Regions from separate parts of the Homo sapiens genome. Here regions 2, 3, 4, 5 and 6 are each reported to be linked to region 1. The links are microRNA targets in miRTarBase. Many come from high-throughput screens and were not tested one by one. Region 1 holds a microRNA gene; each other region holds the end of a gene's coding sequence.

The links. The annotated mature microRNA hsa-miR-619-5p reads GCUGGGAUUACAGGCAUGAGCC and lies in region 1 at 2,683-2,704, shown strand. An mRNA with a match to its seed (bases 2 to 7 or 8) in the 3' UTR can be bound and repressed. Matches are read on the target gene's strand: a 7mer-m8 pairs with bases 2 to 8, a 7mer-A1 pairs with bases 2 to 7 and ends in A, and an 8mer does both.
Region 2: the mRNA of FIG4 is a reported target of hsa-miR-619-5p. The part of its 3' UTR that is shown has no 7-base or 8-base seed match.
Region 3: miRTarBase lists ZNF623 as a target of hsa-miR-619-5p. The part of its 3' UTR that is shown has no 7-base or 8-base seed match.
Region 4: the mRNA of RNF152 is a reported target of hsa-miR-619-5p. Seed matches in the 3' UTR shown: 7mer-m8 at 478-484 and 7mer-A1 at 3,019-3,025.
Region 5: the mRNA of HMGN5 is a reported target of hsa-miR-619-5p. The part of its 3' UTR that is shown has no 7-base or 8-base seed match.
Region 6: the mRNA of ZNF554 is a reported target of hsa-miR-619-5p. The part of its 3' UTR that is shown has no 7-base or 8-base seed match.

The regions. Positions count from the first base shown.
Region 1 is chr12:108,834,590-108,839,665 of GRCh38, reverse strand. MIR619 (microRNA 619) reads left to right here and starts at 2,660; the gene lies at 2,660-2,758. All of the region lies in intron 2 of SSH1 (slingshot protein phosphatase 1), which reads left to right. RefSeq lists enhancers at 10-611, 1,171-1,300, 605-1,804.
Region 2 is chr6:109,824,867-109,829,942 of GRCh38, forward strand. It overlaps FIG4 (FIG4 phosphoinositide 5-phosphatase), which reads left to right. Exons shown (of 23, transcript NM_014845.6): 23 at 222-560. The coding sequence ends at 399. Among named protein-coding and RNA genes, the nearest start is that of FIG4, 140 kb to the left of the region's middle.
Region 3 is chr8:143,651,157-143,656,232 of GRCh38, forward strand. It overlaps ZNF623 (zinc finger protein 623), which reads left to right. Exons shown (of 2, transcript NM_001261843.2): 2 at 1-2,574. The coding sequence ends at 327. Among named protein-coding and RNA genes, the nearest start is that of ZNF623, 18 kb to the left of the region's middle.
Region 4 is chr18:61,811,191-61,816,266 of GRCh38, reverse strand. It overlaps RNF152 (ring finger protein 152), which reads left to right. Exons shown (of 2, transcript NM_173557.3): 2 at 1-5,076. The coding sequence ends at 415. Among named protein-coding and RNA genes, the nearest start is that of LINC01544, 66 kb to the right of the region's middle. RefSeq lists an enhancer at 1-40.
Region 5 is chrX:81,110,264-81,115,339 of GRCh38, forward strand. HMGN5 (high mobility group nucleosome binding domain 5) reads right to left here. Exons shown (of 7, transcript NM_030763.3): 7 at 3,436-4,967. The coding sequence ends at 4,386. Among named protein-coding and RNA genes, the nearest start is that of HMGN5, 89 kb to the right of the region's middle.
Region 6 is chr19:2,834,386-2,839,461 of GRCh38, reverse strand. It overlaps ZNF554 (zinc finger protein 554), which reads right to left. Exons shown (of 5, transcript NM_001102651.2): 5 at 2,727-5,076. The coding sequence ends at 4,610. Among named protein-coding and RNA genes, the nearest start is that of ZNF555, 4.6 kb to the left of the region's middle. RefSeq lists a silencer at 4,964-5,076.

The sequences.
Region 1 (5,076 bases):
TGAAGCTATTTTTAGAAAGACTTTGTTTCAGAGAAGGCTGTTCAAGGTCCTGTGTTAGGAAATGCCTGGTCTCTCCCTGTGCCCACAGAAGTCATTCCTGGTCCAGGCCTGGCACGCACTTGCCAAGAGTCCTCGAGGCGTGTTTCCCCAAATCTGGGCCCCATCAGAATTCCCACAGGAAGGGGCCTTCAGTGTGGTCTGGAAAGAGCCAGGCTGGCTGCAGCATCTGGAAATCACTTGTCACTTCCCCAGTGGCCAGGCCCACCCGTGCCACGCTGTGTCTGTTGCAGCTGGGAGTCTAGGAGTGGCTCTTTAGGTCTGGAGTCAAGGCCACTGACCTGTTGGCTGCCCCTACAGCAAGAAGGCTCCCTAAGGAACCTAATTCCCAGGCCCTGGGGACTCCTGACCAGGCCCCACCTCATGAGATGGAAGGGAAAAGAACCTCTTGTGAAACAATATGGTAATGGAGGTGGTTTTTACTTAGCTATTGGCTTTTTCCATTCAGCCCATGTGTATTTAGTGCCTAAATATGGGTTCTTTGCCAAATGCCAGGGATTCTGTGTGGAGTCAAAAAGAGTCCTTATCCCTCAGGGGTAATGTGTGTTGTATCTACAGTAGTGCCCTCCAAAAAGGATTTGAAACACCTTACAACATTCATAGAGAACAATAGAATGTAACATTAGTGAGAAAATCGGGACACGAAGAAAGCAGAAGAAAATAAGATGAAGTAAGGGGAAGGTTTGTACATGTAATACATGACATAGCATTGGTATGGTTACCAGAATTTGGCCACAGATCTGACTTTGAGTTTCCTGGTAGTCAAAGCAAAGAGAGAAACAAGACCAATCTCTTGATTCTTGGTGTCCTGAAAATACCAGCAGATCAGTTCCTCGGAAGAACTCTTCCTGATAGATACCTGTGGTGTTCACAAGGAAGCCCAGCATAATGGATGGACAAGCAAGTTGTCTTAACAGGGAGAGCTGATGCTGCATGCCTATCCCACCAATTACCCTGGGTATTTGTGGTCTTAAGAGGTGAGGTCAGCAGCAGCACTTGGTGCCAGAGCTGCTGGCCGCCCCAGCACTGAGACAGGATGCTGAGTCACATCCTGCAGGGCTGCGGTATCCTGGCTTCGCGTGCCCTTCACAATAGGAGGCCTGCACGGGCAGGTCAGCCCCTGCTGTTCCAAACATGTGGTCTCCGAGCAGGAAAATGCTAAAATTAGATCTTACGTGGTCCAGAGCCGTGTATGTGAGAGGCCCTCAAAACCTGGACACACACAGACCAGGAAGACCTGGGAGAGCAGAGCTCTTCATCGTTCTCTTCTGCTCTGGGCACGAAACAGGGCCACTTCTGTTCTGGAAAACACGAAGAGGGCAAACAGTGCTGAGGCAGGGAAGGTCTTGCTTGGTGAGGGTAAAACTATGCAAGAGATGAAAGGGCAAAGTCATGAAATATGCCCATACCAGTGATCAGTAAAATCATCTGAAGCTTTTATTACCTACCGATAAAGAAAAATTACAGGTCGTGTTTTACCAAAATCGAATTAAGTGGAGATTTAAAAAATAACTTTAAAAAATTTGGCTGGGTATGGTGGCTCATGCCTATGATCCCAGCACTTTGGGAGACCGAGGTGGGAGGATCTCTTGAGCCTAGGAGTTCAGTACCAGCCCTGGCAGCATAGTGAGACCCTGTCTCTACAAAAAAATTAAAAAATTAGCTGGGGGTGGCAGCACACACCTGTAGTCCCAGCTACTTGGGTGGTTGAGGTGGAAGGATCGCTTGAGCCTGGGAGGTGGAGGCTGTGCTGCGTGAGCCGTGGTCGTCCCACTGCACTCCAGCCTGGGCGACAGAGTAAGACCCTGTCTCAAAGGAAAAAAAAAAAAATTGGTAACTCGAAAACTTGTAATGCTCCCAACACATACAAATGATTAATACTCAAGGTCATGGATACCCCAGATACTCTGACTTGGTCATTACACAGTTTATGCATGTAACAAATACTTACATGTTTTCCATAAATATGTAAAATACTACGTCGATAAAAAATTCTCGTTAATTTTGAGATAATTTCCAGCTTACATAAGAATTGCAAGTACAGTGAAAAGAACTTTCTTTTTTGAACCATTTGAAAGTAATTTGTCAACCTGCTACTCCATTACCCTTGGAATACAGACCAGGGCATTCTCCCACAGAACCGCAACACAGCCATCCACGCGGGACACTGACTCTGATGCATTCCCACCGTCTAGTCCTCTAACCCCATTCAAGAGTCACCATATGTCCCAGCGTTGTCCTTCATAACAAAAGATCCAATTCAGGACTGCCCATTGCATCTAGTTATCCTGTCTCTTGGCTCTCCTGCAGTCTGGAACCTTCCTCAGTCTTTCTTTGACTCTTGTGGCCTGGATTTTATTTTATTTTTTTATTTTTTGAGTTGGAAACTCACTCTGTCGCCCAAGCTGGAGTGCAGCGGTGATATCTCAGCTCGCTGCAACCTCCACCTCCCGGGTTCAAGCGATTCTTGTGCCTTAGCGCCCCAAGTAGCTGGGATTACGGGCATGCTCCACCACGCTCGGCTAATTTTTGTATTTTTAGTAGAGAATAGGGTGTTGCCATGTTGGCCAGGCTGGTCTCGAACCCCTGACCTCAAGTGATCCGCCCACCTCAGCCTCCCAAAATGCTGGGATTACAGGCATGAGCCACTGCGGTCGACCATGACCTGGACATGTTTGTGCCCAGTACTGTCAGTTTGCAGAGTGTCCCTCAGTGTGAGTGTGTCTGATGTTCTTGTGTGATTCCACCGGGCACGTGTATTTGGCTGGAACATCACCCAAGGGATGCTGCGTCCTCGTTGAATCCCATAAGGTGGCACTTGATTTCCTTTTGTCCCACTATGGTGACATTCACTTTGGTCACTAAGGTGGGTTTTACCAGGCTTTTCCACTGTACAGTTATTCTTTTCCCCTTCATCATTCAGAAGCATTCCTTGGAGAGATACTTTAAAATTATGTTAATATCCTGTCTGCCATCAATGTCCGTTTCAATTCTTTGTATTTTTCTGTTTTATTCAGTGGTTTATAATCTGCTCTTAAATTGTTGACATCCTTGCTCAAATTGTCCTTGTGGACAGTTAGGGCCAGTGGGATCTCATCCAGGCTGGCTTCTGTGTCCCTTTGACATGTCCACATCATTCTTTAAGTGCTTTCTTGCTTTCTGGCAACAGATGCTCCCTACCCACCTGTGGAATCAGTCCTTTATCCAAGGGGCTCTGGTTCCTTTTAGTGGAAAATGAAATTTAGGAGCCAAGCTAGGTCTGCTTATTGCTGTTGGGGTGTTGCTAACCACAGGCCTCTCAATGGGCAGAATTAGGGAACATTTGTATGTACGTGCATACACACACACGTGCATCTATATTTATTTCAATAGGTTGAAAACTATGAGTTCAGACTGGTACCTTCAATTCTGATGCAGCACCTTGGGGTTCATTCTAGTTTTGTCTCTCCATATTCATGACTCCCATTGTCCCTGAAATATTAATAAATATTAACATTATGCATATTATATAAACTTAGGTATTATTTATATTATATAGTATATATTTGTTAATATTGATTATATTAATATTAATATAATCGATTATATTAATATAGTTATAATCGATTATATTAATATAGTTATAATCGATTATATTAATATAGTTATAATCGATTATATTAATATAGTTATAATTGATTATATTAATATAGTTATAATTAATTATATTAATATAGTTATAATTAATTAATATAATATGTATATATGCTATATATCATAAATATATTAATTATAAATATTAATATTAACATTAATGTTTAATATTTCATTCCTTGCCTGTGAGCAGTCTCTGTCTCCCTTGCAGCCCCCTCCCTGCACAGATGCCCTTTGCACCCTGCTTGCCAACAGACACCTCAGCTTGGGATCCCACACCCCCTCCCCAACTCAGAAGCTTGCCCTGCCCTTCCCCGCCAAATGGTTTTTAGGTCTGAATTGTTGGGAGGAGAAGTGGACTTTTTTGAGACTGTTTTCCAGAGGTATCAGTTCAGCTGAAAGCCAGTGCCTAAGAGCAGAGGTTTCAGAGTTACACTCCTGCCTTCCCCTTCCTGCTTCCCGGCTCCTTGGTCTCATGAACTTGGGCAGGTGACTTAACCTCCCTGAGCCTCAGTGTTTGTTTGTTTTGTTTTCTGTTTTTTTGTTTTTTTAAGACGGAGTCTTACTCTGTTGCAGTGCTGTGGCACAATCTCGGCTCACTGCAACCTCCATCTCCTGGGTTCGAGTGATTCTTGTGCCTCCCAATAGCTGGGATTACAGGAGCACGACACCACGCTCGGCTAATTGAGCCTCAGTTCCCGTATGTATAAAACACTGAGAGATGGACACTGGGGAATAAATGAGTTAACATACCTGATGTGCTTAGCATAGCGCTCAACGAAGATGTTATTGGTGTTACATTTATTGATGTCCACTGTTTTCTGGGCACTGAGAGGGATCCTGAGACAGAGAAGTCATAGGCCTAGCTCTCCAGACACTCAAGGTGATGTGGGGAACTTAGCTGCTGTTGTGTTATTTGAAGCACTCAGTTGTCAGGAAGACCTGACCTGACCTCCAGGTGGCTTTAACTCGCACGTGGCATGATGCTGTGAGTCTTATTTGCCAGGTTCAACCTGTGTGTGGGGAGTGCCCAGTGTGCCCAGGGCACAGAGATGACCAGGGTGAGTTACTCCTGGAATACTGACTTCAGAGAAGAGCACAGCTTGGCCAGTGTATCTACCAGCACTTACTTTCAATCTACTGTATGTCAAGCACAGAGGGAGATTTAAAAAGCATGTGCATCCTGGCCCTCACATCCCATTGTGAAGTTAAAATATACTGGCAGGAAGATGGCTTCACCACTAGTTAGTAAATAAGTGGGTCAGGGAACACGATTTGGAAATGAGGGAACTTGGGTTCCTAGGTTCCTATCACTAAGGGTGGTCTTTCCTTCAGTATCCAAGGGGATTGGTTTCAGGACCCCCGCCTTTGCCGAGGATAACAAAA
Region 2 (5,076 bases), not on the chromosome of region 1:
TATGCAATCAGGTGAGGCTCCCAGAGGTGTTGGTCCAGCTCTCTCCTCCAGGCAGAGAAGAGAACCAGCCTCGCAAGGACTGGGGAGGTCATCCCAGCAGCTTGTCAAAAGTCAGCCTGCTTATTCAATGCCAGCGACTCTCAAGTGCTTCTGAGACTGCTCCCTGTGGTCCTTCCTTATATTTTCTTTAATGCAGCCCTCTCTTTATTCATCTTTTATAGAACACCCATCTCGGCTTTCTCGCAAGATAACATCTATGAAGTTCAGCCCCCAAGAGTAGACAGAAAATCTACAGAGATCTTCCAAGCCCACATCCAGGCCAGCCAAGGTATCATGCAGCCCCTAGGAAAAGAGGACTCCTCCATGTACCGAGAGTACATCAGGAACCGCTACCTGTGAAAAGAGCGCAGGTCCACCTGGTGGACACGTCTGATTAGCTTAGAACCTGTCTTGTCTCATCTTCAAAAGGTAACTTATTAAAAGTCCTTTGCGTCTGAAGCCTTTCTCCTTTTCTGTCACTTGCAAATTCCAAATTATAGCTAATAAAGATGACTAGATAATTTGCTGTTGTTGCCTTTGCTTTATTTTAGAAATACTTTGTTTACAAATGTGGTCAATATACTATCACACCATCACATTAAGAAATTCACAGGTATCTGCTGAGCACCTGCTGTGTGCCAGGCACCATGGCAAGGTCTAGGAACATCCCAGTAAGCAAAACAGGCCAAAAAATTCCTCTCTTGTGAGGAATGAAGGCAAAGTATTTTTCTTATCTTTATCCGTGAAAGCAAAGTATTGTTTCCTTGTAGTTAACATTTTGACATTTATTCTGGTGGCTTCTATGTTAACTTTGTATTTTGATCAGAAATTTCATTATTCTAAAAGGCCTTGTTTATAGGAAACAAATGCTGAAATATTTATGGATAAACGGACAAGATGTCAAAAAAGTGTTCTCCAGTGGTTCAGGATAAAAAGAATGAATGATAAATCAAATGGAGCAAAATATTAATAACTTGTAAATCTAGGTAAAAAGTAAACAGGAGTTCTTTGAGCTACTCGTGCTGCTTTTCTGTAAGTATAAAATTATATCAAGGCTGGGCACAGTGGCTCACGCCTGTAATCCCAGCACTTTGGGATGCTGAGGCGGGGGGATCACCTGAGGTCGGGAGTTCAAGACCAGCCTGACCAACATGGAGAAACCTCGTCTCTACTAAAACTACAAAACTAGCCGGGCGTGGTGGCGCATGCCTGTAATCCCAGCTACTAGGGAGGCTGAGGCAGGAGAATCGCTTGAACCTGGGAGGTGGAGGTTGCGGTAAGCCAAGATCGGCCATTGCACTCCAGCCTGGGCAACAAGAGTGAAACCCGTCTCAAAAAAAAAAATTATATCAAAATAAATTGTTAAAATTATTATTCCAGTTGACTTCCTGTGGCATGCAGCTGCGTTACATACTTTGACATTTGGTGTTCAGTCAGGTGTTGACTGATCACAGCACGTGTTTTGTTCTCTGTATAGTCAAACATGAATGTGGACAACTTTCTGCATTTCCTAACAGTTTACCACAAATGATTTGATCTCATTATGTCTATACTTTTGTTACAGACTGTCCCATTCTCCCTCCCCATAAATAATATAGAGAAGAAAGCCAAGCCTTCTAATGGGAGAAGGAAAACTGGTTAGCCAAAATGACCTGTGAGCTATCACCAACCCTGACATGCTGGGATTCTATGGAAGGTTTTATATTGCAAAGAAAGGTTAAGTCCCCATTTGACAGATATTTTTGATTGATGCCATCATGAAGTAAAGATTAGAGAATGACAAAATAATAGGTAAGAGGAATTTTGCCTTGGCGCAGGTTGAATATCTAACACAATAGCTTGCTGTTGTGTGTGGGGGTGGGATCTCACGTAAATCTTCCCAAGTCAAAGAATAATCCCAAATTGCTGCAGAGGTGCCAATTATAGATCAGACACTGATCTTCATTTTTAAAATTTATTTTTAACATGGCTTCTAGAGGTCCACCTACTTAGGAAAAGAATGAACTTAAAGTTCTTTGAGAAGATCTGAAATCCAGATCTTCTTTCACAACCTCCCTGAGCTTAACTTTCCATAGCTGTAAAATGAGGATAATAATCCCTGCTCTACTGGCTTATTATGGCACTTAAGAGACTCTGCATGTAAAACATACAGCCATGGTTCCATGGTTCCTGGCACATAAATGATGCTGTCAATGGTAGCTGCTGTTGATGATGGCAGTGGTTGGTATTGGTGACAGTGATGGTGTCCTCAGCACCAACACCCCGATATTTTCAATTTAAGGCATCCGTGTATGTCCTTTTCAGAGTTAACACAATTTTGATGTAACAAGGTGGTATCTGAGCTATTACTTTTGACATTCAGATTACTTAACTTTGGATATACAAGGAAGGCTTTACAAATTGGTAGCAAACCAGACATAACATTTAACCTCTAGAAAAAGGTTAGTGATCTCAAGGAGCATGTAAACAAAGTAAATGCGTATCTGAAAGTACTAAAAAGCTAATATGTCATGGAAAATATAGAAACTGCTCTTATTTGTAGACCCAAAGGGAAGCAAATATGGTTAAGAGCAGGAGCTTTGCTCTCCATCACTTACTAGTAGCTGTGGGTCTTTGAGCAATCACTTAGCATCTCTAATCCTCAATTTTTTCATCTAGTATAGATAGTTGCTGAGAGAAAGAAGATACCTGTAAAGCACTGGGCATGGTGTCTAGCACAGCGTAAATATTCACTAAAAGATCACTGATCACATATAATCACCAGCACTTGCTAACCTGGTACCTGAGCATCATCTCGGAACAAGGTTATATATTAATGCTCACCATGTCCTAGTCACTGAAAAAGGAGAAGATGTCCTAGTTCAGCTTGGCATTGTAGATTTTAATTCTTTAAATAAGGCAATCTAAATGAATCTGGAGACACAGTAGGTCATAAATTGAAATCTCAGCAAATTATGGCGAGATCCCATGAAATAAAATTTTGTTGGTTGTATACCCAAGGGCAAAGCATTCACATTAAAATAACAATGTGAACTTCCTAAGGGTATGCGTGTGTGTGTGTGTGTGTGTGTGTGTGTGTGTGTGTATGTGTGTGTGATGGTGGAGGATAGGGTTGGAGGGGCATGTCTCTTAAAGCCACTTAGTATGTAAATCTAGCCACCACTACGGAGGAAGTCATGTATCATTTTGTCAAACCTGGAGATCCTTCCGTCTTGGTTGGACTTTTCCAGCTTATACACTCCCTGCCATGCTGTTGGGAAGACTGGACACATGTATTGAACAAATGGTTCTGGCATGGAAAAGCATTCATTTGTCATGAGGCAGAATTCATAGGATTGTGCTCTGTCCTCAGAGTTTAATCTTATGTTTTGTGGATCCAAATGGAAATTATTTTATGTGAAGTTCATTTCTCCATAGAAAAGTGACTCCACTTAGAATCCAAATAGACTTTATTCTTCACTTACATGTGAATAAATTAGATGCCACTTGAAAATGAGATTCCAACTTTAGTCGAAAATTGTCCTGTATCTTATTATATGTTTCACAGTAAAGCTTTTTTTCTCCAACTCACTGAGTTTTCTTCTTCCTAGAATTTACCAGATGCTGAATCAGAAGTATTTTCTCCTTTTGGAAAGTAATGTGCCTCACGATTGCCTCCACACGTGCCTTCGAGGTTAGCTGGTCAGAATGAGATTGCTTAGAGTGGCCAGAGAAGGCAAAGATGTTCTTATGTCCTGAATATGCTTTTTCTTGAAATCATGTTTTGCTCTTTTAAAATCAGTTTAAAGATACATTCTCTTTTTCTGGTTTGGCCCCCTAGCATTTTTTATATGTTCTGTTGAGATAAGTATTGCTTAAATGAATCGTTTATTGAAGGAAAAATGATCTGTTTTCCTTATTTCAAGACTTATCACCCTCCCTTTGGAAGAGACAATGGATTATTTCAGAAACTGCATGGTTCTGAGGTGCTCCTAGCATAGGTCAGTTTTTTCTATCTGCACTTGAGCAGCTTTCTTTAACAGAATTTTGAGTCTCCCTTTTCCGTTTCAGAAGTTGAGGGTCATTTGCTAATAGAGAATAGTAAGCTGTCATTTCACTCTTGCTACCCATACACAGAATTTTTTTGGGTTCATTTCTTCAGTACATTCAAGGAAACACCAATGTAATTGCAATCCAACTGGTAAATAAAAATTGTTGTCTTAATTGATCCCCCATGGGTTGAAGATTTCTTTCACAAAAAAATTACAAAACTAAACCACTTGCCTTAGTTTATAGAGAAAGAGAAGGGCCAGGAAATCAGATTTGCTAAATTAGGCAGCAACCAAGATTCTGGTCAAAAGCCAGGGAAACGTGGCATGGATAATGGGAGAGAGGAACCTCAAATGGTGTTGCCTCAAGGTTAGTTGCAGAGACAAGGAAAATGCTTTCACTTGCATTTTCTTTTCTGCTAAGAAGCAAATAAGTCCAGCACTCCTCTAACACCATCATTTTTCCTTTTAAGATGGGAATTACAATTTGAAAACAAAGTTCTCTTCTCTTGTTCCTCCCCTAACCCCCAGTCATTGTGTCTTAGAGATGATTGGGCTGGTGATTAAATTTTCCATCTGGTCCCAAGCTGGCAGAATACCTAACACAGGTGCATCCTAAAGATCCTGCACTCTGGGAACAATGGTATCCTGACCTCACCTATGGTTACAATAGCTGGATAGTTCTCTGGGTGGTTTCCTATGGGGAGGGGGTGCATAATTAAATTTGTATGTGGGCAACTTTGGCTCATGTTAAAAGAAGACATTTCTGGAAGTGTGTTGGGGAAAGAAGGTTTTTATGTGTGCCTGGCAGCTACCCTTAGTAGCTCAAGTGTATATCTCCTATCTTGTCTAGCACATCCCTTTTTTGAGGGGGTTGCCCCTTTTCCACACCAACAACCATCTGCCCTCCCTTTGACCCAGAGTCATTAGGTCAGGGCAGGAGAGTGAGATGAAATTTCTGATTCTCTCTTTCCTCTTCCTTTTTTGGAATACCCTTCCTTTACCTGAG
Region 3 (5,076 bases), not on the chromosome of region 1:
AGGCCCTTCGAATGTAAAGACTGTGGGAAAGCCTTCATCCAGAGCTCCAAGCTGCTTCTGCACCAGATTATTCACACTGGAGAAAAGCCCTATGTGTGCAGTTATTGTGGGAAAGGCTTTATTCAGAGGTCAAACTTCCTTCAACACCAGAAAATTCATACTGAAGAGAAGCTCTATGAATGTAGTCAGTATGGGAGAGATTTTAACTCAACTACAAACGTTAAAAATAATCAAAGGGTTCACCAAGAGGGACTCTCCTTGAGTAAGGCCCCCATACATTTGGGTGAGAGGTCTGTAGATAAGGGGGAACACACAGGTAACTTATAAAATAATTACTTTCCCGCCCAGTGAGTGATGTTTGGAAATGCGTGGAATTAGGATTCATGTGGTTTCTAAGATTTGGACATGTCAGAATTTTGTGAGTCATGGATGGGGCTGCTTTTGCAGTGGGTGCCACCTGCCACTGTGCAGCCCTACTCGGCTCAGCCCTTCTCCTCAGCTGTGAGCACTGTCCTCAGGAGAGTCACAGGGCTTGACACCTGACTCTGAGCTGGAACAGTAGGGGCAGGGAGAAGACAGGTCTCAAGAAAAGGTTTTTAAGAAGTTTCATCCCCAGTTAAGCAGAGTCCATCCTTGACTTAAATCCCTTATTACAGCACAACTGTGTATCTAATCTTACGATTTAGGAGAATGTTACCTAGGACATTTTGATGTGTTAAGTTGAAGAAAGGTAACTCGTGTATGAACCCCGAGCCATTTCCCTGTTGTCCTGAGGAGGAACTCCAGGCCTCCCATCGTGTGCCCTAAGGCCTCCTGCGTCCTGGAGCCCTGCCTCCCACTGCCTGACTTCCTGCCACACGGTTAATGCTGCAGCAACACCGACTGCTTCATCTTCCCTGTGCTCCACGTGGCTTCCTACCTCTCTCGCCTTTGTTCTTGTTGAAGGGTCTCTTCTCAGCTAATTAACTCTGAATCATGGTTCAAGACAAGCCTCAGGCATCATGTCAATGGGTGTTTCCCTCAAGCTTAGTTGGCAGCACTCTCCACACTTCTGTGGCTCAGTGATTACTGCTATTACTATATTTACTTGCATATGTCAGAATGATGTGATAGACTATCTCTGTCACTATGCTGTTGGGTTCCTGAGGACAGTGATCATATCTGATTGATTTCCATGTGTCCACTGTCTAGCACAGGGCAATAAAAAATACACCCCTAAATCTATGTGTAATTGGCATCTCTCTTGCTTTGTCCTTTCTATACTGCCATTCTAAAAATTTTCAGCTGTTGGCTGTTTTTTTTGTTGTTTGTTCATTTTGTATCAGTATAATCTACGATTCTGTTAGAAGTATCTTCTCAGCCCTGCTACTGTCTGCTGCTCCTACTTAGAAGTTGCAGGCAATATCCTGTGCACATCCACGCCCTCCTGTGTGCCACCTTACAGCTCATGCAGAACTGTCTACTTGATCTGGAGGGCATTGACACCTGGCTCAGCTGGAACAGTGGGGACAGGAGGAGGCAGGTCTCAAGAGAAGGTCTTTACTTACTTGTCTGTATCTTTCTGTCTCACTCGAAAGGCACAGTCTCAATGCGCTACGTAACTCTTCTGTTGTAGCAGTTCTGAGGTTGAACTGAGCTCTTGTCATTTTCCATGCTCTCTGGCTCATTGTGTCATTTCAAAATGTATTGATATCTATAAGGAATAGTCCTCAATGTTGGGAAAACAGATGAGCAACCCACTACCCTGAAGTCATCCACCGTGTAGTGGGGAAGACGGAGATCACAGTAGGGTGAGTTAAGTATGTGCCCTCAGGTGTGAAGGAGCACAGGTGAGGGGGTGCCTGCTGTGGCACAGAGCTGGGAAGGCCTTACAGAAGAGGTGACATTTCAGCTGGGCCAGAGATCAGTAGAGAGCAGCTGAAGAAGAAAATAGGGTCCAGGAGAGGAATCTGCAGAAACATGGAGCCATGACAGATGGCTTTTTGGCTAGGACTGTTCGAAAGCAGGCGAGGTAAATGGACAGTGGACAGCCGCCTCGCCAAACTGTTAGTCTTTACCTCTGAATTTCATCTGGACATGAACCCCAAAGTCCAGTTTTGTAACGATATAATTTTTTTCTCATGAGGCCATATTTTGAGTTCTTAAATACTACCAACCCTGAACGTCTCAGGACAAATAATTCAAAAAAGAGATCTACATTTTCTGGAAAATCAGCATTACTAGAGATGTTTCAAATGTAGATTTTACCAGACCATTTTAATCAACTTTATTGAGATTCAATTTTCATATAGTAAAACGCCTATTTAAGTGTACAAGGTTTTGAAAAATCTATACACCTGTGTAACCACCACCACCTGTGTAACCACCACCGCCAGAACCAAAAACGTTTCTGTCACCCAAAGAAGTTCCCTTTTGCCTTTTCCTAGTTAAGCCCACTCCAGCCCCAGATAACCACTTTCTATCCTCATAGATTAGTGTTGCTTGGTTTAGAGCCTCATACAAATGGATTCATTTACTATGTGTTCTTTTGCGTCTGATGTCTCACTTTGGCATGTTTTTAGACTCATCCAAGCTGTTTTGTGTTTCAGTAGTTCTCCTTGCTGAATAGTATTCCATTGTGTGGATAAGCCATCATTTGTTTATTCATCCATGTGTTAATGGGTTTCCAGTCTCGGCTCTTAAAACTATGAGCATTTGTGTAAAAGTATGTATTTGCACATGTGTTTTTATTTCTCTTGGGTAAGTACCTAGGACTTTAATTGCTGTGTTGTAAGTGTCTTAGTTCATTCAGGCTGCCATAACAAAATACCATCAACTGGGAGGCTTATAAACAACAGAAATTTATGTTTTACAGTTCTGGAGGCTGGGAAGTCCAAGATGAGGGTGTCAACATTTGGTGTCTAGTGAGGGCCTGCTTCCTTTTAAGTAGATGTCTTTTTACTGTGACTGCACGTGGTGGAAAGGGACTAGCAAGCTTACCCCATTCATGAGGGCTCTCCCCTTGTGATTCTGTCCCCTCCCCAAGACCCCACCTCATATCATCTTATGGGTTAGGAATTTGACATGAATTGTGCAAGGATGTAAACATTCAGTCCATTGCAATACGTGTTTCTAACTTCCTAAGAAATTGTCACACAGCCCTCTGTAGTGGTTGAATCATTTTACACTATTACTACATTATGGGAAGATTCCAGTTGCTCCATATCTTTGCTAACACTTGGCATTGTCAGTCTCTTAAAATTTAATCCACTCTAGCCTCCTTATGATTTTAATTTGTATTTGCCCACTGAATAATGTATGTCTATGATTTCATCTGCTTATTGCTTTTCCGTGTCGTCTTTTGTGATGTGTCTGTTCGTGCCTTTTGCCTGTTTTTAAGTTGGGATGCTTATTGTTGACTCAAGTTCTTTCCATATTCTGCATGAAAAACATACATGTAATATATAGAATTCTTTGTCTCCATTTGTGACAAATATTGTGAATATTTTCATGTTTGGTTTGCCTGTTCATTTTCTTAATGGTGTCTTTTGAATATTTTTTATTAAGCCTAATTTATCAAAGATTTGGGTGTGGTGGCTCATGTCTGTAATCCCAGCACTTTGGGAGGCCAAGGTAGGCAGATCACCTGAGGCCAGAAGTTTGAGACCAGCCTGGCCAACGTGGTGAAACCCCGTCTCTACTAAAAATACAAAAATTATCTGGGCGGGTGGCACACCCCTGTAGTCCCTGCTACTCGGGAGGCTGAGGCAGGAGAATCACTTGAACCCAGGAGGCAGAGGTTGCAGTAAACCAAGATAATAATAATAATGATTTATGATATTTTATAATAATTTGAGTTTAAGAAATTTGCCTACTCAAAGGACATGATTTTTTCCTATGTTTTTTATTTTTATGGAACTTTTATAGTTTTACCTTTTACATTTAAGTCTGTGATCCATTTTGAGTTCATTTTTGTGTACCATATGTGATAAGGGTCAAGATTCACTTTTTTATCTGTGTGGTTGGTTGGTTCGGTTCTATTTGTTGAGACTCTACTTTCCCAATGACCAAGTCTTCACAGGTTTGTAAAAACTGAAGTGACATAGAAGTGGTCTGTTCTGGACACCATTCTTCTTGTGTGTATAACTTTACACCAATATGACACTATATTGATTACTGTAGTTTTATTTGAGGCAGAAATCTCATTCTGTTGCCCAGGCTGGAGCGTAGTGGCACAATCACAGCTAATGTAACCTCGAACATCCGGGCTCAAGTGAGCCTCTTTCCTTAGCCTCCCAAGTAGTTGGGACTGTAGGCATGCATCACCACATCTTGCTAATTTTTTATATTTTTTTGTAGAGATGGGGGTCTCACTATGTTGACCAGGCTGGTCTTGAACTCCTGGCCTCAAGGGATCCTCCTGCCTCAGCCTCCCAAAGGGATTACAGGTGTGAGCCACCACTCCTGGCCAACTGTAGTTGAACTCAGGTATTGGAAGGGCTTCCGTTTTGTTCTTTTCCCATTTTTTTTTTTTTGACTTCTAGATCCTTTGCATTTTCGTATAAAATTTGAAGTCAACTTCTATCAACTTCAGGCCAGGCCCGTGGCTCATGCCTGTATAATCCCAGCACTTTGGGAGGCCGAGGCAGGCGGATCACTTGAGGTCAGGAGTTCAAAACCAGCCTGGCCAAGATGGTGAAACCCCATCTCTACTAAAAATACAAAAAAATTAGCCAGGCGTGGTGGCAGGCGCCTGTAGAATCCCAGCTACTCGGGAGGCTGAGGCAGGAGAATTGCTTGAACCTGGGAGGTGGAGGTTTCAGTGAGCTGAGATCGTGGCATTGCACTCTAGCCTGGGCAACCAAGAGTGAAACTGTCTCAAAAAACAACTTTTATCAATGTCTGCAAAAAGAAAGTCTTCTGGGATTTATAGATCAATTTAGGGAGAAATGACATTTTAACAATTCTGAGTTTTCCAATTGTTGAACATGGTGTACTGCCCCATTTATTTAGATCTGTTAATTTCTCTCAGTTTGCAGCTCTCACATTTTGTTAAATTCATGTATTTAATATTTCTGCATGCTATTGCAAGTGGTA
Region 4 (5,076 bases), not on the chromosome of region 1:
GTCGCAGCTCCCGGACGACCCGGAGGTCCTGGCTGTCATCGCCATTCCACACACTTCCGAACACACCCCGGTCTTCATCAAACTTCCCAGCAATGGGTGCTACATGCTGCCCCTGCCCATCTCCAAGGAGCGTGCGCTGCTGCCCGGAGACATGGGCTGCCGCCTGCTGCCCGGGAGCCAGCAGAAGTCCGTCACCGTGGTGACCATCCCTGCTGAACAGCAGCCTCTGCAAGGTGGGGCTCCCCAGGAGGCGGTGGAGGAGGAGCAGGACAGGCGGGGCGTGGTGAAAAGCTCCACCTGGTCGGGGGTGTGCACTGTCATCTTGGTGGCTTGCGTCTTGGTCTTCCTCCTCGGCATCGTGCTTCACAACATGTCTTGCATTTCTAAGCGCTTCACTGTGATATCCTGTGGCTGAAGAGGGCTGCAGGGAAGTCTCTTGTGGGTGCCAACTTAGGGGTTGAGCAGGTTGATGATGAGATCCCAGTGAGAAGATGGGGGGCAACACTGACCATTTGGTGCTGAGCGCTGGCCTCTGGGTTGCCTCTTGATTACCCCAAGACAGACACAAAGGGCAGAAGGTGCGGTCTCAACAAGATACCAGGTGAATTGTTCTGAGTGTTGATGGCAACAGCTTGGAAGATGATTGCATGCATCCTCATAATCATGTATTCAATGGACTGTAATTTATGATTTTTCAAAATCATGTTACAAGATAGACATATTCTACTTAGACGTTAAACTGTACAAGTGCGTACAATGTGACCTTCTCTAAATGCGGTAGATTCAAACAAAGATGCTCTGTAGACAAGTAGAATTAAACCTGCGAATCCGTGTAAAAATTCAGTGAAGACATGCACTGCTGGCTTCTTTATTTTTTTTTTCTTTTTATTGAAACCCAGTCTTCATTTAGTTGCTAAGGCTTTTAATACATTTTGAATGGCACCAAAACAAAATAAGTCAAAATGGACAGTCATTTTATTTGGAGGAAATATTTGAACAAGTGTCTCCAATGTGTTGTGTTTTGTCATGAACCTTCATTTTCTTCACTTGTAATTAGAGCTTGCTACGTGTTTATGGAACTGAAAGCTCAACAGGGGAGCAATAAACCGAGAAATCATGAGAAATGTCTAATCCCATGGGAAAACCTGTATGCCGATTTTCCTCAAGCCATCTCACAAAATAAGAATTTCAAATGTAAATATTGTGTATTTGTGTGTGTATGTGTGTGTGTCTAATTTGATTTACCTCAGGTGTTTGAGTCTTTGCTGAAGAATCCTGGGATGAAGACTTCATTGGGCATGAATGAGTCAAGTCTCTGAAGCGGTGGCCACTTCTTGGACATCTTGACCCAGCGAGTGGTCTCCTACACGTCACCTGCAACACTCGCTCCTCTTCTGTGTATTTAAGTCCTGCATTTTGTAAGAGGCAAATGGAGAGTAACAGAAGAGTGTCTTTTCTCCTGGTTTTGGAGTCTTGCACTGGCCATGAGTGTTGTGACTGATGGTCAACCCAGGCGGGCATTTTAATAAATGGCCTGTGATTCTTTTTTGAAAGATGCTCTTCCACAAGAGTTAAGCCAGTTAGAATTCCTGTTTCCTCTTGTTGATATGAGAGAAGATCTCCTGTATTTTAACACGTTTTTACCAAGAAAGGTGGCAAGGTAAACTAACAGCTCAAATTCCCAATATAAGTGGACCAGTTCCTCATAAACTGTCAAATGTTCTTAAATGTGTAATGATCTATAGATGCTCATGAAGAAAGATCTGCTACAAGTACGTGATAAATTCCTATCCCTGGGTGCATGTGCATTCAGAAATAGCTGTGAGCTTTACAGCTCTCATCTAACTTCTTTTATGGAATTCATGAAGCAAGTGGTATGTGACAAGGACTCCACTTATAAATATAACTGTTTTTATGTTCCACTGAATCCCTGAAAATGGTGAGGAGGGTGGGGGGAAGTGAAGGAAAGACAAGCAGGGCTAATTCCAAAAAGCAAGGCTAGAAAATAGCCCTGTGAGGTCAAGACAATTTAATTTATTTACATGCTGTCTGTTATCTTCAAGCAGCACAAAATATGCATATAAAAGTGATGGAATTAATGTGAAATAAAACAAAAATATAATGGCTAGAATACAAAGCTAATACTGCTAATTGGCATGAGAATTCAACATAAAATTGTGAGCTCTGATTTTTCAAATTGATCATAAAACCTTTAGGAAATGTATTTGAAAGCTCAAAATAGAAATTAGGTTAAAATGCCATTTTATTGTGTAAGCTCTTGGGCATTATACAACAAATAATCTAGGATTTATTTGGTATTAATAATTTAGGTGTCATATTAGCTGAATACTATCCTCTATTACATAACATAATATACTGTTGGGTTAGTGTCAATTTCTCAAACTCTCCCAGGCTGCCATAATGCATGTCTGACCTAATTTCTATTTCTCTTGGAGGAAAATACACACACACACACACCACAGAAGTGTTGCATTAAGAATGCTACATTTCGAATAGACTTTGCCCTTGCAATTTTAAGCTATGCCATATTCAGATTAATTTTGTGAGTGATATCTGCATATGTTTCTGTACAGTGTGAAATGACTGACCCTGTAGTATAGTACGTGATAGAGTTCTACTTGTTAAAGTAGGTTAGATATAGACACTAATGTGTGTGATGATAGTGTCCTGTGTTTCTTAGTGCAAATCTGTAGAGTAAAAATGTCCATAGAACTTTTACTTAAAAACAATCCCATGCTAGAGTTGCCATTAAGCAGTGCAAAATTAATCGGCTGTATGGTAGATTCTTGACCTTAAATTTAACAACAACAACCAAAATCAGATTTTTTTTGTGAGTCTTACTGACCTAAGAAACATTGTTTAAATTGTTTAAATGGATCTGCTTGCAGTTATTTGTGTACCTGTTTGTTGGGGTGTGCATTCTTGTGTATGTGTGTGTGTGTGTGTGTGTGTGTGTGTGTGTGTGTGAGAGAGAGAGAGAGAGAGAGAATCTCAGTCTCCCAGATAGAATTTTATAGGCTTAATGATGTTTTAATGTTGCTTGGCATCCCATTGCTCTGGCCTCTTCTGGCATTTACCAATGACCCTTAACAAACACATCTACCCATGTGACCAAAGTCCACTGACACAAGAGGCCAGGATTCATACTTGCACATTAATGAAAAGTCACAACTGGAAAGCACAGAAAGAGCTGAAAGCAGCCTCCGGTGGCTTCATTTTGTAGATGAGTCCGTTTTGTAATTCTGCAGAAAGGGGGGGATATGAACTTCGCACTGCAGTGTCTTCTTGCTCCATCCTAGGTCTGTCTATATCTCTATCTGGCTATGATCCTTTCTAGGGTTGATGAATACCCTTTACTGAGTCAACTATTGCTTTAAAGAATTTTTTTTGTAGGTTTATGTACTCATTTTAGTTAGCATCTACCTCTCTGGGAAAATGAAAGGAGGGTTGACTTAGGGATGAGTATAGATGTTGAAAGACAACTATCAAACCATGTGGTTTGAATTTTTAAAATTGTAAAACATTGGTGTCCAAACCTCCCACCCCACTTGTATGTAAAGGACAGTGAGTGTTGTATAAATAGTAAACTATAAGAAGCATGAATTTTCATCTTTATTAATGATCTTGAAATAAGGAAGAGAATGCTTAATATGTTAAGTAGAGCCAAGAATGCTACTAAGAAGCATTGTCTTTGGAAAAATTTTGTATAATGACTTGGGGCATAAGTTGTGATGAAAAGGCAACTTGGTTTTTGGTTCCAGTCATACTTAATGATCAGAAAGCTCTAAGATGTTTTCTTTAAAAATAGAATTAAGTTTAATTTTTTGCATGGCTTACAGATTGGGTCCCTTGAAGGTTAAACCATGTGATGGTATAACCTGTGAGATCTTCTAGATTGGCACTGTTCAATAGGGCTTTCTGTGATGATGGAAATGCTCGAAAACCTGTGCCGTCTGGTACGGTAGCCACCAGGCACATTGACTTTTAGGCAGTTAAAATGGGGTTACTACAAGGGAAGAACTGGATTTCAAATTTTATTTAATTTTAATTAGCTTAAATTTAAATAGCCCTATGTGTCTAGTGGCTGCCATATTGAACGATGCAGTTCTGGGTGATAGCGCTTGGGGATCCAGCATCAAGGTATTAATGGAGTAACAGTGAGGCTAAGGTGAGAGTTTGTGGGCTAGTGACATGCAGTTGGCAAAAGGCAAAACATTCCTTTCTGGGCTTAAAAAGTATGTGATCTCAAGTATGACAGTAAAAATTCATTGTTGCCCTTTGGAACTGTTGCTTATAGATTTTAGGCCAAGGAATGATCAGTGAAGCTTAAAGAATGCTTTATTAAGCCCCTTTTCTGGGATCATTAGCTGCATGTTAACCTATTGTCCAAAAATAGTAGTTAGACAGTACCTGTAAAACGTTTGACTTGCAAGCTATGCATGATCTGTACTGTGAAATTGTGTCTAGGGTCTTGTGGCCAAAAAGTAAATGTTACAGGAAAAAAAAAGCCTAATGAAATCCCTGTTCACTTCCAGTATCCTATCCAAACTTCATTGCTGTATTAGTAAGGTGCAAATATAAGAGCAAGCATGTTTTGCAGTGTTCAGACTGGTTTTGTTTGCCCTTGAAGTTGGCCAGCTTGTCGTTGTATTTGGTGTGGGCATATGTGGGCATCATTTTTCAGATGCCAAACTAAAATGTAGGTAGTATTTTTAGAATGAGATTTGACATTGTTTTAGTGTCTTTCTTTTTTAAGCAAAAATTTCAGTTATCCCTGAAAGAGTTGAAGATTTGAAGCTTTGCACAAAAGCACTTTTTTTAACAGTAAAAAATACTGCCCATGAAATTTAAAGACTTGAAGTTTACTAAAGCTACAATAATTACTTTTTAGCTAAATAAAAGGAAGCAGAAAATTCAGTTTGAGATATATTTCCTATAAAGACCAGATTCTTACTGATAATCTGGTATTTATTCCAGTCTAGATTTTGATTTTAAGAGTTCCCATCCCTTTATTTGAAAACTTATGTTGTTTCAAAATTGGTTAGTCTGCTTTTC
Region 5 (5,076 bases), not on the chromosome of region 1:
TTCTTTTTTTAAGGAACAATAAACGATAAACAGAATCATACTTTCGCATCTAATTACAATATGACTTCTGAGGTTATTCCCATTAGAAAACTGTTGACTCTGAGGAATGCCTCCCTACCAGACAAAATAAAGCTTAGGGGTAAACACTTTATAGTGTCACCAGAAAATTTTAGATTAAAACTTCAGCAGTATATACTCAGAAAATCAATTATTGTCTAAGTCAGCATTATATGTTACTGAAAACTTATGTTGCAAATGAGACAATTAAAAAAATATGTCTCATATTACTAAAGAGGCACCAAAAGTCCTTTTTCAACAACTTTTCCGTGTGGTGCTCCTTATAGATTTTTTGGTACCATTGGCTATTTCTCTCCAACCTTGGTAAAGAGTGTTCTACTACAGTAGATTTGTAATGTACATTCACTTTCACTTACAGTGATGGTGTACTGTTTTTATAAATTACCACCACTCCTACCCCACTCTTCCCTCCACATCTTGCAGTTGCTGAGGCTTTTAGGAGAGAAACTGTGTGAGGCAATGTTTGGATGGTAAAGGGAAAGTAGAATCCAATTAAACATCAAGAGACAAAATAAGACCTGAGGAAGAAAGGTTACTTTTGTAATAATATAGTATGAAGAAATGACCCTGTTTTAGTATATTACAGTATTCTTGCTATATAAGGGCTTTATCATGTAGTTAAAATAACATTGCACAGGGAAGCTGACTACCCTCCTTCTGTAGAAAGCAAGCTTTCACATGAAAACTCAAGATAATCCATTACCACAGTTCTGCTAGAAACCTGGAATATGTTTCTAAAGAGGAAGCCAAGATCGTTATTTTCATTTCGCATTGATAACGAATGGCATCAAGGTGTTTAAGAGACTAGTTTCTCTGTTGAATGTTATATGAATCCATTCTCTGTGGTTGCACAATGTGGCTAGGAAGCAGGGGATCCAAGCAAGGTGCCTAGAAGTTCAACCTGATCTTTGGGGTTGGTTTTGATAACTGTAGCATTGTACAAAGTTTGAGAGAGGGTGTAAAATGGTAAAGGACTTGCCAGCCCAGGAAAAAGTAGAGTCAGAGGTCTGTGTTTCGAAAGTTAGACCTCTTGCATTTTGCGTATTTCCTTTTTTATTCTTAATATTGTGAAGTCTTTTTAAAGCCAGGACAATTAGGCAAGAAAAATAAAGTCATCAAAATTGGACAGGAAGAAGTAAAACTATCTCCACAGATGTCATAATTGTAAAATAGAAAACCTTGAAAATTCCACAAAATGCCTATTACAGCTAATAAACAAGTTCAGCCAAATTGCAGAATACAAGATTAGTATACAAAAATCAGTTGCATTTCTATACCCTCCCAATGAATGATTCAAAATGGAAATTAAGAATTTCACTTACACCAGCAAAGATTAATAGGAATAAATTTAACCAAGGAAGTGGTGGGAGTCTTGTACACCAAAAAATACAAATTATTGCTGAAAGAAATGAAAGAGAACCTAAATAAACGGAAAGACATACTGTGTTCATGGATTGGAAGATTTAGTATTGTTAAAATGGCAATATTCCCCAAGTGGATCTGCATATTAATTGCAACCCCAGTCAAAACACCAACTGCTCCCTGCCTTGTTTTTGCAGAAATGGACAAGCTAATCCTAAAATTTATGTGGAATTGCAAGAGACCTGAAGTAATGAGCAAAGTTGGAGAACTGACACTTCTGATGTCAAACTTACTGTAATACTACAGTAATCAAAATTTTTGTACTGACAAAGATTGACATGGGTCAATGTTGCAAAATTCAGGGTCCAGAAATAAACCCATACATCTGTGGTTTATTGATTTTGACACAGGTGCCAAGGCCATTGAATGGGGAAAGAATAGTGTTTTTCAATAAATGATACTTGGGCAAATGGATAGCCAAATGTAAATGAGTGAAAATTGATCCCTACTTCACTTCATATACAAAAATTAACACAAAATGTACCAAAGACCTAAATGTATGAGAAAAAAGTATACAACTCTTAGAAGAAAACATATGTGTACATCTTAGTAACCCAGGGTTTGACAAAATTCTTAGATATACCACCAAAAATATAAGCTATAAAAGAAAAAAATGAATTGATCATAAAAATTAAAAATTTGTGTATCAAAGGACACTATCAAGAAAACGAAAACCACAGAATGGGAGAAAAATATTGCAAATCATATATCTGACAAGGGACTTGTATGTAAAAGATATACATATCTTAGAACTCAATGCTAAAGAGACAACCCAATTAAATAATGGAAAATGATTTGCATAGACATTTCTCCAAAGAAGATATACAAATGACCAACCAGCACATCAGAAGATGCTCAACATCATTAGAGAAATACAAATCAAGATCATATGATTTGCATCACCTCCAAATCACCCTACTAGAATGGCTGTAATAAAAAACATGCAATAAGTGTTAGCAAGGACGTGGAGAAATTAGAACACTCATAAATTTCTAGTAGAAATATAAAATGCTGAAGCCACTTTGGAAAAGTCCAAAAGTTCCTCAAAAATTTATGCATAGAACTATTATAAGATCCAATAGCTTCACTCCTAGATATATACTCAGAAGAAATGAGAAAATACATCCACAAAAAAAACTTGCACAATAATGTTCACAGCATTATTGTTTATAATTGAAAAAACATGGAGAAAACCCAAATGCCCATCAACAAACATAATGTGGTATATTAACAGAATATTATTCAGGCATTAGAAGAAATAAAGTACAGTAAGTCCTCACTTAACATCGTTGACAGATTTTTAGAAACTGTAATTTTAAGTTAAGCGACACATAAGGAAACCAATTTTACCAACAGGCTAATTGAAATAGATAAGAGTTAAGTTCCTACCAAATATTTCTGGTTACAGCATCACCAAACTTCTAAAGACTAAAATACTTCTAATATTAAACACTGAAATAAATATAAGCTATGCATAGAATTAAGAACAATAAGAACAAGATAATTATTTACATGCTTATTCCAGTTTACAGTAGTGGATCGCTGCAGCCTATTTTAGCAGCTCAGAAGGCAAGGCGGGAACCCATCCTAGACAGGACTCCAGTCCATCACAGGGAACACACACACACACACACACACACACACACACACACACTCATACTGGGATCATTTAGGCATGCCAGTTAACCTAAAATGCACTTCTTTGGGATGTACGAGGAAACTGAACTACCTGGAGAAAACTCATGAAGACATGGTGAGAACTTGCAAACTCCACAAACAGTGGCCCCAGCTGGGAATCTATTTTCTCATCAAAATTATAACCAAACAGCATTGAACAAAATTGAGACCTGCTGTAATGATACAAATTACAATGGAGATTGACCTGAAAACGTTTTGCTAAGTTAAAGAAGCCAGATACCAAAGGCCACACACATATTATGTGATTCCATTTATAATAAATGTTCAGAATAGGCAAATCCATAGAGATAGAAGGCAGATTAGTGGTTGCCAAGGGATGGAGGTGGGGGATAAGTTGGGCGAAAATGGGAAGAGACTGCTAATTGGTGCTTTGTTTCTTATTTGGGTGATAAAAATTCTCTGGAATTAAACAGTGGACACAACATTGTGAATATACTGACAACCATTGAATTATATACTTTATTTTTATTATAATTAAAATGGTGAATTTTACTTTATATTAATTTTATGTCAGTGAATATTAAATATTTTCATGAATAACACAATAGAAAAAAATTAAGCACAATATTTCACTAGCTATATTTTTGAAGATATAACAAAACACAATCATCGTCAGAGTCTTTTTATTAAGATAAATCCAGTAAAATTTGTGTATTCACATATAATCAAAACTGCCCTTCTGAAATAAACATTTGTATTTATTTTAAAAATGGGAATACAATTTCATTTTTCCCAAGCTAATAATAAAGTTATATTTGGGAAAGATAAGTTTAACTCTTAACATTACATGAAAATAGTTCACCTTCTTTATAAAAGCAACCTGCAGAACAAGAATGTTGGATGAAACTCTTTTTTTGGGATCCCTCACTTTATGAAATTATCACATGTATAAAAGAGTAAAATTAAAATTCAAAGATTTGACATATAACTTACACAACACGAAATTCACTCACAAAGTTGAAAGCATATTTTTTTCTATGTATTCCACTACTATAATCACAAAATTTATAGATAAATGTTTCATGTTAGAAACTTTATGGCTAATAATCAATATGAAGATGTTCTGAAATTAAATCAATGCTAAAGAAAGGCTGTGTTTATAAAATTTTTGATAAAAATATTTATCTCTATTAACTTTACAACATGAAGGTACATGTTACCAAATTATGAAACTACATAGGGCAGTTTTAAACAATACTCTGTGGCTCCTCTTTTTTTCCATCATCTTCTTTGATCTCATCTTCCTCTTTTCCTTCTTCCTCTTCTTTTAAATCTTCTTTCTCTTTTCCAGCTTCTTCCTCATTTCCACCTTCATCTTCTTTTCCATCTTCTCTCTCTTTTTCATCTTCTTTGACTTTTACATCTTTCCCCTCTTTTTTATCTCCCTTCTCTTTTCCATCTTCATTCTCTTTTCCATCTCCTGTTTCTTTTCTGTCTTCTTCCTCTTTTTCATCTTCTCCTTTCTCTTTTCCATCTTCTCCATTTCCTTTTCCGTCTTCACCTTTTTTTCCATCTTCTTTCTCTTTTGCATCTTCTCCTTTCTCATTTCCATTTTTATCCTCTTTTCCATCTTCTTCCCCTTTTTCATCTTTGTCTTCTTTTCCAGCTTCCCCTTTCTCTTCGTTTTGATCTTCTTCATCTTCTTTCTGATCTTCTTCTTCATTTTTTACTTCTGCTGCCACTGCTTCTTTCTTTTCTCCTCCCTTTTCTGTGGCATCTTCAATATTTTCTTCTTTTACTTCCACAATTTCTTTTTCAGAAGCTGGTGCCTGTAAGTATAGTGAAAAGAAAAACAAGATTCTGTCTGTAAATTTAGAACCATTTCCCCTAAATATTTACACTGGATTATATCTATTTCACAGAAAGACTAATACTTCA
Region 6 (5,076 bases), not on the chromosome of region 1:
GGATCCCGACTCACTGTAAACTCCACCTCCCGGGTTCAAGTGATTATCGTACCTCAGCCTTCCGAGTAGGTGAGACTACAGACCTGCCCCGCCACACCCAGCTAATTTTTTTGTTTTTTGTTTTTTTGAGACGCAGTTTCGCTCTTGTTGCCCAGGCTGGAGTGCAATGGCGAGATCTCGGCTCACTGCAACCTCTGCCTCCCAGGTTCAAGCGATTCTCCTGGTTCAGCTTCCCGAGTAGCTGGGACTACAGGCACCTGCCATCATGCCTGGCTAATTTTGTATTTTTAGTAGAGACGGGGTTTCTCCGTGGTGGTCGGGCTGGTCTCGAACTCCCAACCTTATGTGATCCACCCGCCTCGGCCTCCCAAAGTGCTGGGATTACAGGTGTGAGCCACCACGCCTGGCCTACTAATTTTTATTTTTTTAGTAGAGATGAGGTTTCACCATGTTGGCCAGGCTGGTCTCAAACTCTTGACCTCAGGTGATCCACCTGCCTCGGACTTGCAAAGTGCTTGGATTACAGGTGTGAGCCACCACACCCAGCCTTCAATTTTTTTTAAAAAAAGGAAAAACGATTGTGATAGGCCTGAAAACACTGAATACACTTAATAGACAGGGGCTGAAAACCAAACACAGTTAATGGTTATTCATTTCAGAAAACTCCATAGCTTAAGTGGTTGTTCAAATTCTGATATTGACATTTCATTTAGAAACAATTTTTAAAATTTATTTTTATCTTTCCTAGGAAGGTTTTACACACTTTTATAAAAATTAATGTTTAGAGGACTGACATAGGAAAGCAGCTTCCAGTTAAAAATAGTGTGCCCGGGCTCGGTGGCTCACGCCTCTAATCCCAGCACTTTGGGAGGCTGAGGTGGGTGGACAACCTGAGGTGAGGAGTTTGAGACCAGCCTGGCCAACATGGTGAAAGCCCCATCTCTAATAAAAATACAAAAAAAATTAGCCGGGCGTGGTGGCGCATGCCTGTAGTCCCAGCTGCTTGGGAGCTGAGGCAGGAGAATCGCTTGAACCCAGAGGCAGAGGTTGCAGTGAGCCGAAATCTCACCATTGCACTCCTGCCTGGGCAACACAGTGAGACTCCATCTCAAAAAATAAAATATAATTGCTGGAGGGAGATAACAAGACTGAAAACAGTACAGTCAGGAGACTTCTAAGTCAACCCTTCTCAAGAATATGCTGGAAGTTACAGATGCTTTCCCCAAAAAACACATCAATGCACCAGCACACAAAGTTGTTCTCAAAGTTGTTCACAGAGCCCCTAAAGAAACTTACTCATCAACCCAATAGGGTCTAGACTGACCATGGATCAAGGATCTCTAAGGAAAAGCAACATGTTCCATTTGGGTGAAAGGAGATCTGACGGGCAACCTCCCTCATTAGCTCAAGGAAAAAGGGAACATTCACAGGAAAGTTAGATGAGTCCTAAGAGAAAATTTGTAAAATTTTTTTGAGACAGGGTCTTGCTTTGTCACTCAGGCTGCAGTGCGGTGGTATGCTCATAGCTCACTGCAGCCTCAGCCTCCTGGGCTCAAGCGGTCCTTCCACCTCAGCCCCCAGAGTAGCTGGGACTACAGGCGTGAGCCACCATGCCTGGCTAATGTTTGTATTTTTTGCAGAGACAGGGTCAATGTTGCCCAGGCTGGTTTTGAACACCTGGGCTCAAGTGATCCTCCCACCTCAGGCTCCCAAAATACTGGGATTGCAGTTGTGAGCCACTACACCCAGCTTTCCAAGAGAACATTTGGAAAACAGTTCCCCTGCTTGGTGGCCTGGCAAATGAGGTGTGGCTTTGTACAGGGTGCTCAAGGTCAAATCCAGAGTCCACTACTTTTTTTTTTTTTTTTTGAGACAGAGTCTCACTGTCACCCAGGCTAGAGTGCAATGGCACCATCTCGGCTCACTGAAACATCAGCTATTCTCATGCCACAGCCTCCTGAATAGCTGGGCCTAGAGGCGTGCACCACGACGCCCAGATTTTTTTTTTTTTTTTTTTTTGAGACAGAGTTTCACTCTTGTTGCCCAGAGCTGGAGTGTAATGGTACTGTCCCAGCTCACAGCAACCTCCACCTCCCGGGTTCAAGCGATTCTCCTGCCTCAGCCTCCGAGTAGCTGGGATTACGGGCATGCACCACCATGCCGGCTAATTTTGTATGTTTAGTAGAGATGCGGTTTCTCCATGTTGGTCAGGCTGGTCTCGAACTCCTGACCTCAGGTGATCCGCCCATCTCGGCCTCCCTAATTTTTGTATTTTTTGGTAGACATGGGGCTTCACCATGTTGGCCAGGCTGGTCTCGAACTCCTGACCTCAAGTGATCCACCCACCTCAGCCTCTCAAAGTGCTGGGATCACAGGTGTGAGCCACTGTGCCCAGCCCAGATTCTACTCCTTTCTAATTGTGTGACCTTGAGCAAATTATTTCCGTTTTGTCTTCTGTAAAATGGAATGTGAATAGTGATTATCTCATGGGGTCGTGAGGGCTAAATGAAGAACCACATGGAAGTACTTGGCTGGTGCTTGGTATACAGTAAGCATCCAATACATGTTCATGACGATAATGCACATCAGCACTCCTGGTCTTGATTTTGCTAGGGACATCTCACAGGCGGGACTTTTCCCAGGCCACCAAAGGTCATTCCACCCTCTATGTCCCAAAGTCTACTATACTATGTCTCTACCATCTAGGTACCCACAGTCTATCCTGACTCATCAATGAGGTTCCGTATCCTTCACAATTTTGGGTGCTATTTGATTTGTATTCATTGTCAAAATGATTATGGCAATACAAAATGAAACGGCAGAAAACACAAAATCACACATAATTGGAACACCCCAATCATTGCGTAAATGATTCATTTCTTCACGTCTCTGTCCAGCCTTTGTCCTTTTGTGAATGGATCAAATTACTAGTACTATTTTGAAGCCCTTGTATTTTTTAAACTTTACCTCCAAAGCGCTTTCCGTCTTAGCATATACTCTGGATCAGCACAGTACTGCAGAAGACAAACGGATCTAGCTAAGTGGCCAATGTGAAACACTGAAACAGAATGCTGAAATAAAGGCCAGGAGCAGTGGTTCACACCTGTAATCCCAGCACGGCGGCTCGCACCCATAATCCCAGCAGGGTGGCTCACACCTGTAATCCCAGCACAGTGGCTCGCGCCCGTAATCCCAGCACAGTGGCTCACGCCCGTAATCCCAGCACGGTGGCTCACACCCGTAATACCAGCACGGTGGCTCACACCCGTAATCCCAGCATGGGCAGCTCACGCCCGTAATCCCAGCACAGTGGCTCACACCCGTAATACCAGCACGGTGGCTCACACCTGTAATACCAGCACTTTGGGAGGCCAAGGTGGGTGGATTGCTTGAGCTCAGGAGTTTGAGACCAGCCTGGGCAACCTGGTGAAAGCCCATCACTACAAAAATACAAAAAAAAAATTTAGCTGGGTGTGGTAGCGGTGCACATGTGTAGTCCCAGCTACCGGAGAGGCTGAGGTGGGAGGATTGCTTGAGTCCAGGAGATGAAGGCTGACTACAGGGAGCTATGATCACGCCACTGCACTTCAGCCTCAGCAACAGAGTGAAAACTCGTCTCATATAAACCCAGAAAAGAATATTAAAATAAAAACAATGAACAATGAAATAAAAAGTAAAGACACAGAAGTAGTTAAGAAACAGAACACCTTTTGTTTAAGCAACTAAATTAACACGTGATGGTTCTTGGCAAGATCCCATCCATGACAGCATTCCCGTCCACCAATCTTTTCCGAAAGTCTGGAGCTTACTGGACGTAGTGTAATGGCAACTCCTCCCACTAAAAGGCCCCGTCAGGCTGGGCACAGCGGCTCATGCTTCTAATCCCAACACTTTGGGAGGCCAAGACAGGAGGATGCTTGACCCCAGGAGTTCAAGACCAGTCTTGGCAATGTAGCAAGACCCCAACTCTATAATTTTTTTTTTTTTTTTGAGACGGAGTCTCGCTCTGTCTCCCAGGCTGGAGTGCAGTGGTGCGATCTCGGCTCACTGCAAGCTCCACCTCCCGGGTTCACACCATTCTCCTGCCTCAGCCTCCTGAGTAGTTGGGACTACAGGCGCCCACCACCACGCCCGGCTACTTTTTTGTATTTTTAGTAGAGACAGGGTTTCACTGTGTTAGCCAGGATGGTCTCGATCTCCTGACCTCATGATCCACCCGCCTCGGCCTCCTAAAGTGTTAGGATTATAGGCATGAGCCACCGCACCCTGCCTCCCACTCTATAATAAATTTAAAAATTTGCTGGGCGTGGTGGTGCACACCTATAGTACTAGCTACCTGGGAGGCTGGGGTGGGAGGATTACTTGAGCCCAGGAAGTTGAAGCTGCAGTGAGGTATGATCACGCCACTGGACTCCAGCCTGGGTGGCAGACTCCATCTCAACAACAACAACAAAATACAAAAATGCCCATTCTCAGAGCTTTCTTATAAGAAGGTGAGAAGGTGACATAAACCCACTTCTTTTCAAATTATCCATCACAACAGGGCAAAAGATAACCACATGTATGTGTCAGAGTACTAAAAAGTGGCTTACAAAGCAGCGTGCAATTGCTAATATCCAATAAGATGTCTGTTCTGGTAGAACGCTTTCCCACAGTCAATGATTTTATAGGTTTTCTGGCTGCTGTGAGTTTTCTGATGTGTGACAAGGGATGAGCTCTGGCTGAAGGCTTTCCCACATTCCTGACACCTGTAGGGTTTCTCTCCAGTGTGAGTTCTCTCGTGCCTCACAAGGGAAGACCTCTGGCTGAAGGCTCTCCCACACTGCTTACATTCATAGGGGTTCTCGCCCGTGTGAGTTCGCTCGTGCTGGTTGAGAGAGGAACGGTCACTGAAGGCCTTTCCACATTCACTGCATTCGTAGGGCTTCTCTCCGGTGTGTGTCCTCTTGTGCAAGATCAGGTAAGAGCTCTGGCAGAAGGATTTCCCACAGTCTTCACATTTATAGGGCTTTTCCCCGGTGTGAATCCTCTGATGCTGAGTCAGCGATGAGATCCTGTTGAAGGCTTTCCCGCACT